Regions from separate parts of the Homo sapiens genome. Here region 1 is linked to region 2. A link means that fine-mapping ties the variant in region 2 to the expression of a gene that starts in the linked region. Tissue or cell type: cerebellum. Region 2 holds a variant in brackets; the other region holds the start of a gene. All regions are shown on one strand. Distances are between the middles of the regions.

Evidence for each region. PIP is the estimated chance that this variant, and not a neighbour inherited with it, causes the effect.
Region 1: NDST3 starts here. The variant in region 2 is fine-mapped to the expression of NDST3 in cerebellum (GTEx, PIP above 0.99). The same link has a PIP of 0.9 or more in cerebellar hemisphere.

Annotation. Positions count from the first base shown.
Region 1 is chr4:118,030,588-118,038,781 of GRCh38, forward strand. NDST3 (N-deacetylase and N-sulfotransferase 3) reads left to right here and starts at 3,899. Exons shown (of 14, transcript NM_004784.3): 1 at 3,899-4,005.
Region 2 is chr4:117,769,567-117,777,760 of GRCh38, forward strand. No RefSeq gene overlaps it. Among named protein-coding and RNA genes, the nearest start is that of LINC02264, 61 kb to the right of the region's middle. RefSeq lists an enhancer at 3,294-3,794. The variant C/A (reference allele first, on the strand shown) is at 3,737.

The DNA.
Region 1 (8,194 bases), 260 kb after region 2:
CACAAGTTCAGTCCGGGCACGGTGGCTCACGCCTGTAATCCTAACACTTTGGGAGGCTGATGCAGGTGGATTACCTGAGCTCAGGAGTTAGAGACCAAGCTGGGAAACACTGTGAAACCCCGTCTCTACTAAAATAGAAAAAATTAGCTGGACATGGTGGCATGTGCCTGTAATCCCAGCTACTTGGGAGGCTGAGACAGGAGAATCGCTTGAACCTGGGAGGCAGACATTGCAGTGAGCCAAGATCGTATCACTGCACTCCAGCCTGGGCAACAGAGTAAGACTCCATCTCAAAAAAAAAAAAAAAAAAGAATATATATATATATATATATATATACATATATGTATTGCACAAGTTCATTTGGAGATGACTCTATTTGAAGTGCTTCACAAATGTCTGGCCCTGAATCAGATGGCCTTCTCCACCTCTACTTGGGCACTGCCACAGTGTTAGACTAAATAGGAATACCTCTCTGGAGGAAAATTTTTCGCTGGCCTTAATGTCCCTGGGTTAGGAACAGAAGATTGGAAGGGAGGGCTACAGGGGGCAATGGTTGGCCCTGATGTCTGTCCCTTCTTACCTCTCTGCTGGGCACGCAGCCCAGGAGTGAAAGGAAATATAGGCAACATATCAATCTGCTATTACACTGGCTTAGACGACATATGTGTGCAGATGAGGACTTCTCTAATAGAGGTGTAAGATTTGAGGATCTCATAGGAAAAGACAGCATGATCCTAAGCTGTTTGTAATTCCAGATGGATGGTTGGAAGGAGCAGTAGCTGGTAAAGGTAACAACTCTCCCAAAAACAATGAGAAATTTGATTATGTCTCCTATCCATCTTAGCTGAAGAAAACCCCAAAATACAGTCATAAGAATAGTAAGTATCTTATTTTGTAGAAGAAGTTTTTCTGGTTTTGTGTTTTTGTGCAGAGGAGGTAGAAAAAGAAAAGAAAAAGTGAATATCATTTCTGAATCTGCCTACATTCCCTGAAACATTTAGGAATTTATGAATTCATGAATCTTGTCTATTCTCTGAAATCTTGTAGAAGAGCCTGACCTCCTACAGCTATATCAATATAAGCGACTGAAGGGCAGAGAGTGGTCCTGCTTTTCTTTTTTCAATATTATTGTATTCCCAGAGCCATTTAGTAGGTGTTCAATAATTTTTTTGATTACTAAAATGATGAATGCATGGCTGCTCGGAAGACAGAGCAGGCTCTCTCTTGGGTAAGGAGTACATAGAAAAATAAATGTGGGTTCTTAAAATTCTTAAAAGGCACAAGACTTCCAGGGAACACTCCAACTAAAAAATAAATAAAACCAATCTAATACATGTTACTTGGCCAAAGAATTCTAGCATCCTGACATTTTTGTGGGCTTCCAGAAGGAGCAATTGGTTCAGTCACATCTGTAACCCCTCCATCACATAGAACAAAAAGGATATATAACTTCCTGATTTTAAAACACAATTCCAACTAACCCTTTCAGGACATTGGGTTCTAATTGAAGGTCTTGAACTACGAATCCAAATACCCTGATAAAGTTAATAAACAACCAGAATATTTAATTACTGTATCATCGTTTGTGTCTCTTTCAGTTTCAAGGGACAGCAAATGCAGTCCAAGCTGCCTTAAGACAAAAGTGAATGTGGCCAGTCGCGGTGGCTCAAGTCTGTAATCCCAGCACTTTGGGATGCCGAGGTGGGCGGATCTCGAGGTCAGTAAATCGAGACCATCCTGGCTTACACGGTGAAACCCCGTCTCTACCAAAATACAAAAAATTATCCGGGCCTGGTGGCGGGCTCCTATAGTCCCAGCTACTCGGGAGGCTGAGGCAGGAGAATGGTGGGAACCCGGGAGACGTAGCTTGCAGTGAGCTGAGATCACGCCACTGCACTCCAGCCTGGGCGACAGAGCGCGACTCCGAATCAAAAAAAAAAGTGAATGTATTTGTTTATGAATGAAAATATCCAGAGATAGAACTTATTTCAGCTACAGCTCGATTCCAAGCTCGAAAATCTCCATCTGGGTTTCACTTTTCTCCAACTCTCAGTTCTGCCTTCCTGAGTATCAGCTTTATTTTCAGACTTCAAGCTCTAAGCTCACATCTTCATTATGCAAAGTCCAGTAGAAGAGAGTCCACTTTCTTAAGAGAGGAAGGAAAAAAAAAAGTCCCAGAATGGTGGTTTTTTTCTGTTTTTCTCTCTGATTGGCCAGACCTGGGTTACATACCTACCCATGCTACCAGGACAGAAAGCCATCACTGGCCAGACCTGAGCTGTGGGTCTACCAGTGAGTCAGCAGCGGCTGACATCACCTAAAGCAAATGGGCTGCGGGGTGAGATCAAGTGGTTGGATCTTCCAAAATGAACAGGAGTACTGTTTCAACAAGAGTGAGTGCTGGGAAGCAAAACCACAAATGGCCAATACAAAGTATCATTAGTAGACCCCACTTAATACAATTCACATGTTAGTGGAACCAAATGAAATTTTTAAAAATATATATCATTCGATTCACACTTCTAATCAAACTATAGTTCTGGAGAGGGTAACCTCACACCTTGAATCCAAAATATCTCTTCAGTTGCTGGCCTTCCACTTGTCTTCAGGAGCTGAAACACATGGCATTTGAAAAAAACTGGCGAACAGAGGAAACTCTTGCAGCCTCGCAGCCGCCCTGGTCCAGTGCCAACGGCAGGAGCACCACAGGAAGGGACCGCGCGGGTGCGCCCCACCCTTCCAGCGTCGCCTCGGGGACTCGCACCCCTTTCCCTGGCCGCACAAGACGTTTCATCCTTGGCGGCCGCCGCCAACCCGCCGGGAGGGGCGGTCGGAACTGGCAGGCCGGGGCGGAACCCCCGGGGTCTCCTTGTCGAGGCCCGGGCAGCCAGATCCTCAGGGCCGGTCCGGGCGGGAGCCCGGTCGATGGAGGCGGCTCCCGTCCTCAGCTCCCGCTCCCTCCCCTTCCCCGGGGCGGGCGCGCGCGGGCCGGGAGCTGGGAGGCGGCGGCTCCCGCCCGGGAGGCGGTGGCGAGGGCGGCGGAGGCGCGGCCGGGCGGGTCCCAGGGCCGTGGTTCTCCAGCGCAGGAGTCCCCGGCGCACCCGCTGCGCTCGCCCCGCAGCCGCAGCCTGAGCGGCCGAAGTCGCCACCAGCTGTGTCCGCGCAGATCCCGGGCGCGGAGGGGAGAGGTCGCCCGCTTGTCGCCCCCGCCGGACCCCGGGCACCGCGTAGCACCCAAGCGCCACCCGGACGAGGGGCCCTGGGGAGCGGCTGAGGCCGAAGACCCGAGGGAAGGAGGAGCCCGCGGACGGCTGCAGCCCCAGGTAATCTCCATGGAGGACGGGGCCGGTCTCCTCGCCCAGAAACCCGATCCGGGCGCCTTGGAATGCGGACTCCAGAGGCGGCATCTCGACCAGACAAGTTTCTCGCGGCTTGGAATGAGGGAGTCCTGAAACCGACACTCGTTTTATTTAACCAGCTTTTTTCTCCTGTTTTAAATAAGTTTATTTAGACAATGGAAAGAAAAAAACAAACAGCCTCTTGAGTGACTGTGGGTTTGTAAATATAATCCTAAAAGTTTTTCATGGTGTGGTTATTTGCTTGCTCATATTTATTAACCTGTTAACTCTTCCGCTAGTCAGAAAATTGACATGTAAAATATTCTTTGAGGAACGTTACAAGTTTGCTGTTGTATTCGGGCATCCTGTTATTCATCAGCTTAGTTAGCATCTGTCTTCCCCCGAAGTGGTACCAAAGCCGGTCCCTTGGCGACGGGTCTTGCATGTGACACTCTTGCCCTCTAGTGCCTCACCAGCTTGGTAGCAGTTTGATGGCTAATATTAATAAGATGTTACATAACATGAGAGTACTGGGCCAGGACTGGTGTTGCTACCACTTGTAAAGTCAAAAAGCCTGAGCCGATGGTAACGAGTGGTACTGTTTCCGTTTCTTTTCCATCTATTGCAACTTTCTCAAGCATTTTCAGCTCTGAACTTTAATTCCAGGTAAGTGTATTTATTTATTTATACTGTGCATTAATGCCTCACTCATAAATGTAGGGGCTTTTAAGAGATAACAACTTTGCTTTCAAATAATCTAAAAATTTCAAGATTGAACAAGTGCTTCATTTTATTCTTGAAGAAGAAATATAGAGTATTTTGATTAAATTAAGTGAAACAAAGGACCGTCTCATTCAGGGATGATTTTAAAGCTTCCCTTTCATAAGATTATGGTACTAAAGAAATGACCTCTTGTAATTGTTTAAGATATTCACCAACTTATAATGATTCTGAAGTAGATCTGTTTAACAGAACACATGTCTGTTGCCTTGACAGAATTTTGTAAGGAATATCAGAGACTTTAAACTACCTGCCTATCTACACAGTAATGATCCTCAAAAGGCTTTCTATTTGATGCAGTTTATAGACATTATTTAAAACTATACAATTAATAAAATTAAATGGAAATGGAAAGAATCAATCTAGGTATCAAATACAGAAACTTTAAATTTAAAGAAAACAGATATATCTTCTATTTAATATATCCATTTTGTGGGGGCAGGTAAAAGCAAAGTTACATCTTTAAGGGGTTTACTCAGATCCTTTTTCAAATAGTTTTTCTAATAGCTGGATACTGTTTAAGCATCAGAGTTATTTAATGTCGAAAATGTATTAGTATCTATATTCTTTATAAACATATTGAAATATAGCAACATGTAATCTGGAAGAGTTTAGAAGAAAACCCTTCTAGACAATGCAAACAGCTACATTCTTAATACATTTGTATTAAATTAAAATACAAATCAAATATTGAGATGTGTGCAACTGATCTGGGACACACACTTTTTTTTTGTTTTTTTTTTTTGCCCTTAGAAAATTTCATGTTATCAACTACTGAGCAATGCTGTTCACCACCAGAGAGCAGGATGATATGGCAGAGAAACTCTAGAATATCCGATATTCAGCTGAAGGGAATTTTTTTCCCTTTTTCTTCATCCATACCTTCCTATCAATATTATATTTAAGATGGAGATTTCAAATATAAGTTTGAAGGAGGCTCCTTTTTAAAATAGTACTGAACATATAAAGAGGCTTGCCTAAGATAAGCTCTTTTTTTTCTTTCTCTGGTTAACACAGTATCTACCATTTCTAATTTTGTTATCATTTTTCTTTATCATCTTGATGGTAAAACAGAAGATTTGTTTCTTTGTGTAAATAATGTTAATTTTGAGCTTGTCACATGAGTTAATTTTCTTCATAGTCTTTAAAATGAAGAATTCTTACATTACTAAAATGTTTTAGATAAAATAAAACTTTTATCTCTTTCTGGAGATATTTGTTATAGTTTAGTTTGGTGGAGTTATATATACCCTCTTTTTAAATTAATTTTCTTGAGAAAAGCATTATTTCTGAACATTGAGGCAAATATTAATTTTTGGTGTAACTGAAAAGTTTGTTAAAAAATATATAGTAGAAGAGATAATCAGGCATTGGAGATTCTTTTTCTAAACCATATATTCTGCTAAAGAAGTTATTATAAGCTAAAATGTAAATATGTAATTGTCTACCTGTCATTTCAAAATTTTAAAACTGTAAAGAAATTACAATTTTTTTTCTTTTAATCTTGGGACTCTGATTATATGACTTCCTTGAAACCTGATTGAGTTTCAGCTGCTTTTTGGTGATTAGAGCCTTAAAAGTGCATTTGTTAAGATGCAAAATATATTTTTTTAAACTATATGTAAATACTTTGTGATTTATATACACTATAAAATCAGGGAAATTGAATTAAGGATAAAAACACTATTCTCAACTAAATGAATGCCTTGAATTTCTAATTGCTTAACAGTTCTGACAGTAAGGGAAAACAGTAGAAGTTTACTTTCCCTGTGCTGTGTCTATTATAAATGAGCATTCACACTGAAATGCATGAACTCTGAACACCTGTCCAGATTAGGAATGCTGCCAGGCCACAAAAGTAACGACCTACATTATAAAGATAATTAGTCTGAACAATCCTCAAAACTATTTCATGACTGAAGTTTCTCGTAAAGGGGTGATTTTAATATTTCTTGGTTTGTCTGTTTGTTTATAGTAAAAAACTATACTCTTAGATACCTGGATATCACAGTGAGTGATTTATTCTTTCATGTTACTCTAAACATTTTCATCGATTTCATGTAAGTTACAGGACAAGAAAAAAAAAGTAGTCAGGACCTACTACAATTAATTAATGTCTATAAGAAATTATTTCCCCAAATCTTCTACAAATTACTGAGGGCTATAATTCTTGATTACCTGTTGCCAAATAAGAGCTTAAAAATCAATTATTGCAGTCCTATCCTAAAACCTTTAAGCATCTCAATTATGGGTATCCATTTTACATGTGTTTCATTGCTGAATTTTTTTTTTCATTAAAATATTTGAAAATAACATGAAAGTAGACCTAAATTCTAGGACTGGCTCTGCCAAGACAGGAGTGGCCTTGAACAGCTCCCTTGCTGGCTCTGGGGCTTGGTTTCTTCACCTGAAAAATGAGGATTCCAGAGACCCTTTTTTATCCTGTTTGTTCAACATTTTAGAAATTGATCTGGAGGCCAGGACGAAGATAGATGAGAAAACATCAGTGAATAATACAAAATTTAACTTGGTGATAAGTACTATTGTCTAGATTTCTGCTAAGTAGAGATGTTACAGTTTTTACTCATAGAATAGTTACCTTGTACCAGGCACTGTTCTACTTTACATATTAATTTTTAGCTCATATAATCTTCACAAAGATTATTTAAGGTAAATATTATTCCTGTTTCACAAATGAGGAAATTGAGGCACTGAGCGGTTACCTACCTGCCTAAGATCACATCCCTGGCAAGTGCTGAAGCTGGTATGCAGTTTGAGTCCGGCTCCAGCACACATTCCTTTAACCGTTATACTACATTGTCTCTCTATAGGTTTCAAATATTTGTTCTTGATATGCCTCTTGATGGAACAGAGGTAATCCATATACCACTCCAACAATTTCCATCACTTCCCTTACATATGAAATACTCATTCATTCACCCAGGAGGTATTTACTAAGCATCTACTTTTGCACCAGGCATAAAGGAGTCCACAGGACAATTAAATGTGGTGCCTTCCCTAGCTAAGTATATACAGTCTAGTTCAGGTGATTTCTTTCTCCTCTTTTGCTACTGCTGTTAGGTTGAGTCTCACTTGTTCTAAAATGTGCCCAAGGTAACAGAAGAATAATTTACCTGACGCCTTTATTGATGTGTCCATAGAATAGAGAGTAATAGAACCTTCAACCTCCTCAAGACTCCCTATATCATATTTTTTCATTATTCGTTTCTACTCTTTTTGCATCATCTTCTCTCTGCAGATTGGCTGTCTTTCCTTATCTGGTTCATGTAACCTGCCCTAAAACATAGCCAACACTGATCTGTAACTTTACATCTAATGGTCCAGGCAACCAATGAGAGGCCAGGTTAACACTCTCTTGTTCCCATGAGTCTAATGAAGGACAAAGAAAAGGTTTGGATTAGACCCTAAAAGCTGCATTGTCAGCACTCACATATGTCATATGTGAGCATGTGTGACAGAATATGTCAGCGTATTTTGATGCATGCATTCTGGTCCAATCTTAGAGGGTAAAGGCAGACATTTTCCCCCTTAAGTCATATAGGGCAGAATAAACAGCAAACAGCAGTGGGGTAGTTTTCTTCTCTTGCATCACTGGATGGCATAACACTGAGGGAGGTGAATAAAACATATTCTTCTCTTCATAATTTCTAATACAAAGATGGAGGGAGAATGATAATAGAAAGTCATTTTCCATTTAATGTACCAAACAAAGCTAATGCCCTCAAGTGCAGCTTTTCTCCCATCCATCTTTTAAAAATTGCAGTTCTAGAGACAGAGTGTATTCTTGGTCATACTCCATGTAAATCAGCTTCTTACTTGCCTACCACAGCAGGGTTTAATTAACATGACACAATTTCACACATTCTTTCCCAAAGAAAAGCTTGCCCTTGTCAATTTTTATTATTATTACTAAATTACTTTTAGCAAGTCCATGTAACATATTTGAGGCCTCCCACTGCATTTTTCAACATTATAAAATATAGTTTTATAGTTCATTCCTTTTTCAGAAAAAGGAATATTGTCAGGATCTTTTAAATATCTTTCATTTATGTTA
Region 2 (8,194 bases):
TCTGGGGAGGGAGAGCACGCCCAAAGATCAGAAAAATTTGGAAATGTGGATGCATATTTAAACATAATCTGTAAATACATAGATAATGAACATGTCAGTGATTACAAGAAAAGGGAATAGAAAGAAAATAGAAAGCTTTGTCTAGTTCTTATAAAAATACTATAAAATAAAAAGGAGTTATATGTACTCCAGTACAATGTTTTCACTCAAGAATCCCTTATCATTTGTTGTGTTTGCACTGAATATGCCATAATTTTAAAATACTTCTTCCCTATTCAGTTAATTATCAAAATTAAAACTGGTTAAATAACAGGGTGAAAACATATTATTTCTATTTCATAATAAATGCTATTGCAAACTATAAAAAATAAATTCTAACATATCCTTACCTAGTAAATACATGTGAACTACATTTATAGCAAACAAATGCACTGAAATAAATACACCCTAAAACCTATGATTCTGTAGTGGTCTGAGTTATGGAAAAGGTGGTATCCCAAAGACTGAAAATAATCTCAGACAAGGAAATACAGACCACTGTTGATAGGGACAGGAGGCAGAGAAATTCTAAGCAGAAAAGGGCAGGTCCCTGGTGAAGTCCCACCCTCAAGCCACAAAGCCTGAGACCATGGCACAAAGTGAGAACTTATATCCGTGTTTTCCTGCTCCAATGTTGCCTTTTTCAAAACAATGCATGGTCCACCCTGCCCCCCATCCTGTGCCCATAAAAACCCCAGGTTCAGCTGGCAGAGTAGGGAAAAGCAGCTGGACATTAGAGACTATGACTGGATGTTGGAGAGAAGCAGCTTGACTTCAGACAGACAGCTTGGTGATGTAACTTCAGAAAAGAATCTGGCTGGAGATGGCTGGACTTCAGGGGAACATTACCTTACTGCCCCTTTTCCTTTTCAGTTCCCCTTCCTGCTGACAGCCACTTTCACTAGCAATAAAATCCCCTGCATTTACTGTCCTTCACTTTATTCGTCTGACCTCATTTCTCCTGGACATTGAACAAGAGCTTGGGAGCCATGAGTGTGGATACAAAAGGCTGTCACATTGACCCTTTGCCAAAAATGCAGAGAGCCCACTGAGCTGTTAACACTTAAGCCATCATAGATGCTAGAGCTAAAAGAGCATGGTAACACTCCCTCTGGGGCTTCAGGGGTTGTGGGGACACCCCCTTGATGCTTCTGTGGGGCCTGTGTGCTGTTCGTTCCTGCCAGCACCCAAAAGTGCTTGCCCCAGCTCCTGCACTCTCTCACCTGCATGCTCCCTCCCACAAGGGATGAAACGCAGCAGGTCCAAGTGAGCAGAGTTCACCCCTGCCAGTGCCAAGGCAACCAGCTGGTTCCAGCACTCATGCACTCCAGTTCCCACCTTGTTCACTGATGCACTCCCTCCCACAAGGAGTTGAAAGCTGTGGGTTGAGTTAATGAGGCAACCTTGTTGTGAGTCCCATGAAGGGGTCAGGAAAATATCCTGCTTCACCAGTAACTAAAGGCTTTTAGCTATATATATTCCAGCAAACCAAGACAAAAACCAAAATTAACAGGTAAAAGCATGATAAAAAGGAATTTCAGTTGGTAAGAAAATTGTAAAGCCCAGCAAAGTAACTACATCTATTACCAGAATAAGAGAAATGATATAAAAAAGTTTTAAGCAAAATGATGTAAATACAGTGTCCAGATTAAATGTTAAAAATTGGTAAGTGAGAGACAGTGGGAAAAAATAAATGAGACAGATCATTTTATGTTACTTCAATATTTGTAAATAGTCTTTCATTCTTATCAGTTAGAGAAAGTAAGGTCCAAAAATCAATTTAACTGTAATGATGTTTTTCCAAATGAAAGAAAAAACTTTGTTTGGCAAAATCTAGAACTAAATGATTGGGTTGGGGAAGAGGGAACATTAAAAACCAGGAAAATAACTTAGTTTAATATTTATCTGATGTTGAATCTGAGAGAAGCTTTTCTAAAAATAAATGCAAATACATAAAAAAGAAAAAATCAGTAGATATGATTGCAGAAATTTTTAAAACTATGTATCTAAAATAAAACATTACATTGAAAGGTAGATGACAAACTGAGGGAGATTATATAATGTATGCAGGGCACATAAAGATAATACATACATTATATAAACATATAATATTTATTTAAAAATATAATATATTTCATATTAAAGTCTTATAATTAATTTTTCTAAATTTGTGGGACGTGGAGCAAGATGGCCAGAGTCTTCCAGCGATCGCTCCCCCTGCAGGAGAAGCAAACTGAACAACTATCTACACAAGAAAGCACCTTTATAAGAACAAAAAATTGGTTGAGAGATCACAGTACCTGGTTTTAACATCATATCAAGGAAAGAGGTACTGAAAGGGTAGGAAAAACAGTCTTGAATTGACAAGATCACCTTCCCTCATCCCCCTTCAGCAACCTCATGACACAGAGAGAATCTGGAGAATCTGTGTCCTTGGAAGAGGGAGAGTGCAGACATTAAGGGACCTTGCATTGAAATTCAGTGCTAACTGAAAACAACAGAGGGCAGAATTCACACTGGAAAACAACAGAGGGCAGAATTCAGCCAGTACCCAGAAAGGGAGCACTTAGATCAGCCCTAGCCAAAGGGGAATCATTCCATCCCGGCAGTTGGAACCTGAGTTCTAGCTAGACTCACCACAAAGGGCTAAAGTGCTCCGGGGTTTGAAATAAATTCAAAAGGCAGTATAAGCCACGAGAATTGCAATTCCTGGGCTAGTCCTGCTGCTGTGCTGGGCTCAGAACCAGTGGATTTGGGGTGCACACAACCTAGCGAGACACCAGCTGGGGTGGCCAAGGGAGTGCTTGCATCACCCCTCCCACAACCACAGGCAGCACAGCTCATAGTTCTGGGAGAGACTCCTACTTGAGGAGAGGAAAAGGAAGTTTAAAAAGTACATTGCCTTGCAATCTGGATACCAGCTAAGCTACAGTAGAACAGGGCACTGGGTGGTGTCCTGAGACCTTATTCTGGGTTCTAGCTCCTGGACTTTTCTGGACACATCTTGGGCCAGAAGGGAACCGGCTGCCTTGAAGGGAGGGATCCAGTCCTGGCAGGATTCATCACCTGCTGACTAAAGAGTGCTTTGGGCCTTAAGTAAACATCAGAAGTACCTAGGCCATATTCAACACAGTTCTTGGGTGAGACCCAGAGCCATGTTGGCTTCAGGTGTAACCCAGCCCATTCTCAGCTGTGGTGGCCACAGACAGAGACTTCCTCAGCTTGAGGAAAGTAGAGGGAAGAGTAAAGGGGACTTGTCTTGCAGCTTGGGCACCAGCTCAGCCACAGTGGAGTAGAGAACCAAGCAGGATCCTAGAGTTCCCAGTTCTAGGCCTTGGCTCCTGGATGGCACTTCTGGACATGCTCCGAGGTAGAAGAGAAACATTGCCCTGAAGAAAGAGACCGAAGCCTGGCAGCATTCACCACAAGCTGACTGAAGAGGCCTTGGTCCTTGAGTGAACATCAGCAGTAGCCAGACAGTACTCACTGTGGGCCTTCTACACGAAGAAAGAAGAGGGAAGAGTAAGAAGAACTTTGTCAAGTGTCTTTAGTGCCAGCTTAGCCACAGTAGAATAGAGCACAGAGTAGATTCTTATGTTTCCTGACTCTAGGGCCTGGCTCCCATATGGCATTTCTGGAACAGCTCCGGGCTAGTGGGGAGCTTGCCAACTTGAAGGGAGGGACACAAGCCTATTTA[C/A]CACCTGCTGCCTGAAAAACTCTTGGGCCTTGAAAGAACACCAATGGGAGCCAGTCAGTGGTCATCACAGGCCTTGGGTGAGACCCAGTGTTGTGCTGGCTTCAGTTCTCAATCAGTGCAGTCTAAGTTATGGTGGCCACAGAGGGACTTGAGTCACCTCTCCCCCAGCTTGAGGCAGCTCAGCACACAGAGAGACAGACTCTGTTTGTTTGAGGGAAATAAGGGAGAAAAAAGTTTCTGCCTGGTAATCCAGGGCATTTTCTTGGATCTTTCCCAAGACCACCAAGACACTGCTTCTACAAGTCTGCAAGAATCACAATGTTACTGGACTTGGGGTAACCACTAATGCAGATATGGCTGCAGTGACAAAGGACTTAGATCACAACACTAAATTCCCTTTGAATACTTAGAAAGCCTTCCCAAGAAGGAGTACAAACAATCCAGACTGTGAGACTACAATAAATACCCAAACATTGACAAATATTCACAAGCATCAAGACTACCCAGGAAAATGTGACCTCACTAAACAAACTAAATAAGGCACCAGTGACTAATCCCAGAGTGACAGAGATATGTAATTTTTCAGACAGAGAATTTTAAAATAGCTGTTTTGAGGAAGCTCAATGAAATTAAAAATAACATAGAGAAGGAATTCAGAATTCTATCAGATAAATTTAACAAAAAGATTGAGATAATTAAAAAATATCAAGGAGAATTTCTGGAGCTGAAACATTGAATTGACAAACTCAAGACTGCATCAGAGTCTCTCAACAGCACAATGGATAAAGTGGAAGAAAGCACTGAGGACAGGCCATTTGAAAATACATAGTCAGAGGAGACAAAAGAAAAAATAATGAAAAGAAATAAAGCATGCCCACGAAATCTAGGAAATAGCCACAAAATGGCAAATCTAAGAGTTACTTGTCGTAAAAAGGAGGTAGAAAGAAAGATTGGGGTAGCAAGTTTATTAAAATAGATAATAGCAAAGAACTTTCAAAATCTAGAGAAAGATAACAATATTTCCAAACTCACTCTATGAGGCCAGTATTACCTTATTACTAAAGCCAGAGAAAGACACGTGAAAAGAAGAAAATTACAGGACAATAGCTCTGATGAACATTGATGAAAATGTCCTCAAAGGAATACTAGCAAACTAAATTCAACAACATGTTAGAAAGATTATCCTTATGATCAAATGGGATATATCCCACAGATGGTCCAACCAGCATATGCAAATCAATGAATGTGATACATCGTATCAACAGAATGAAGGGTAAACCCATATGATCATTTTAATTGATGTTGAAAAAACATTCCATAAATTCCAACATCCTTTATGATAAAAACCCTCACAAAACTGGGTGTAGAAAGAACATAACTGAACACAATAAAAGCCATATACAACAGACTAACAGCTAGTATAATTCTCAATGGGGAAAAACTGAAAGTCTTTCCTTTAAGAACAAGACAAGGATGTCAGTTTTCACCGTTATTATACAACATAGTACTGGAAGTCCTAGCTGGGGCAATCAGACAACAACAACAAAAATAAAGGGCATCCAAATTGCAAAGGAGAAGTCAAATTATCCTTATTTTCAGATGATATGATCTTATATTTGGAAAAACCTAGATTCCAACAAAAAAACTATTAGAACATACAAAAGTCAGTAACATTTATATATGCCAACAGCAAACAACCTAAAAAGAAATGAAGAAAGTAATCCTAATTAAAATAGCTAAAAAGCAAATAAGATACCCAGGAATAAACTTAACCAAAACATGGTTACAATGAAAACTGTAAAACATTGATACAAGAAATTGAAAAGGACACACAATAAAAGGAAAAATATTCCACATTCGTGGATCAAAAGAATCAATATTGTTAAAATATTTTTACTACTCCAAGCAATCTACAGATCAATAAAACCCCGATCAAAATACCAATGACATTCTTCACAGAAATAGAACATACAATTCTAAAATGTATATGGAATGGCAAAAGACCCAGAATAGCCAAAGCCATCCTCAGTAAGAAGAGCAAAACTGGAAGAATCAAATTACCTCACTTGAAATTACATTATAGAGCTATTGTAACCAAAAAAGCATGGTACTGGCATAACAATAGATACATAGGCCAATGTAATAGAATAGAGAACTCAGAAACAAATTCACATATCTACAGGGAACTCATTTTCAAAAAAGGTGTCAAGAACATACACTGGGAAAAGAACAGTCTCTTCAATAAGTGGTGCTGGGAAAACTGGATATCTATAAGAAGAATGAAACTAGACCCTTATCTCTCACCACATGCAAAAATCAAATCAAAGTTGATTAAAGACTTAAATCTAAGACCTCAAACAATGAAACTACTACAAGGAAATGTTGAGAAAGCTCTCTAGGACACTGCTCTGGATAAAGGTTTCCTGAGCAATACTCTACAAGCACAGGCAACCTAAGCAAAAATGGACAAATGGAATTACATCAAACTGATAAACTTCTGCACAACAAAGGAAACAATCAATAAAGTAAAGAGAGAGACAACCCACCAAATTGAAGAAAATATTTGCAAACTACCCAGCTGACAAAGGATTAATAACCAGAATATATAAAGAGCTCAAACAACTCTATAGGAAAAACATCTAACAATCTGATTTAAAAATTTATTCTCAAAAGAAGACATATGAATTGCCAACAGGTTTATGAGAAGGTGCTCAACATCATGATTATCAGAGTAATACGAATCAAAACTACAATATTATCCCACCCCACTTAAAATGGTTTTTATCCAAAAATGAGCAATAATGAATGCTGGCAAGGATGTGGAGAAATGGGAACCCTCATACACTGTTTGTGGGAATGTAAATTAGTACAGCCACTATGGAGAACAGTATGGAGATTCCTCAAAAAACTAAAAATGGTGCTATCATATGACCTAGCAATCCCACTGTTAGGTATATACCCCCCCCCCCAAAAAAAATTAGTATATCAAAAAGATATCTGCACTTCCATGTTTATTGCAGCATTATTCACAATAGCCACGATTTGGAAGCAATTTAAGTGTCCATCAACAAATGAATGGATAAAGATGTGGTACATATACACAATGGCGTACTGTTCCACCATTAAAAATAATGAGATCTTGTCATTTGCAGCAATGTGAATGAAAGTGGAGGACATCATGTTAAGTGAAGTAAGCCAGGCACAGAAAGACAAACTTCACATGTTCTCATTTATTTGTTGTAGCTAAAGATTAAATGAAATTGACTCATGGAGAGAGAGAGTAGAATGATGGTTTCTAGAGGCTATGAAGGATAGTTGGTGGGGGATGGTTTATGGGTACAAAAATACAGTCAGATAGAATAAATACGATTTAGTATTTGATGGCACAACAGGGTGACTACAGTTAACAATAATTTATTGTATATTTTAAAAATAACTGAAACAATATAATTGAAATATCTGTAACATAAAGAAATGATAAATGCTTGAGGAGATGCATACTCACCTACCCTGATGTGATTATTACATATTATATGTCTATGTGAAAATATTTCATGTACCCCATAAATATATACACCTACTATGTACCCATAAAAATAAAAATTTAAAATTTAAATAAATTACATAACCCTCAAAAAATCCTATTGGATACATCAGGAATGGTGCATATAAAAGGAATTTACAAAAGTCAAAATTATAACTGACAAATCTGTATTGTCTTAGTTAATCAAAAAACATCAGATCAATAAATTAATGAGATGTTTTTCTTCCTTAATATTTGTGAAATTAAAATAATAATAACGAATATTCTATCCAGTGTAAGCAAGGGCACAAATTTTAAGATCCTACTGGTAAATTTCTATAATATTTTTAGAATTTATTTCTCAATATACATTAATGACCTTTATTTTGATTTGAAAATTTTGTTGATAGGATTTTATACTATTAAAACAACCAGAATCTCACCCTAATTGTATTACAATGTCAGTGACTGTAAAATGATAAAACATTATAAACAACCTAAATGTCCAATGACAGGAGATGATTTGAATACTATAAATCAAGTAAAGAATACTATGCATCCTTAAATATCATTTCACACTAGTAATATATATAACTGAACTGTGTTTTAGTGAAACTGTATTATAGTGTGCAAAACTTGCAAGAGTTATGTTGATATGGCTCCACAGCCCATTAATCTTCCCATATCAATTTACCAGTGGACAGGTAAATTTGAGAGAATAAATTCATCGGGGTGGCTCATACAATATCAAAAGTGAAAAATAAGCTGAGAAAATTAGAATGAAAAGAAAAATTATAACTGCCTTAATGATTGCCTACAGGTCTACCAATAACATACATTTAATCTAGCTTTGCAATAAATTAACACATGGATAGATGGTAGGATTAGCATTGTTCTTTGGCAATCTCTCTGTGTGACTTTCAGATATATTTGGA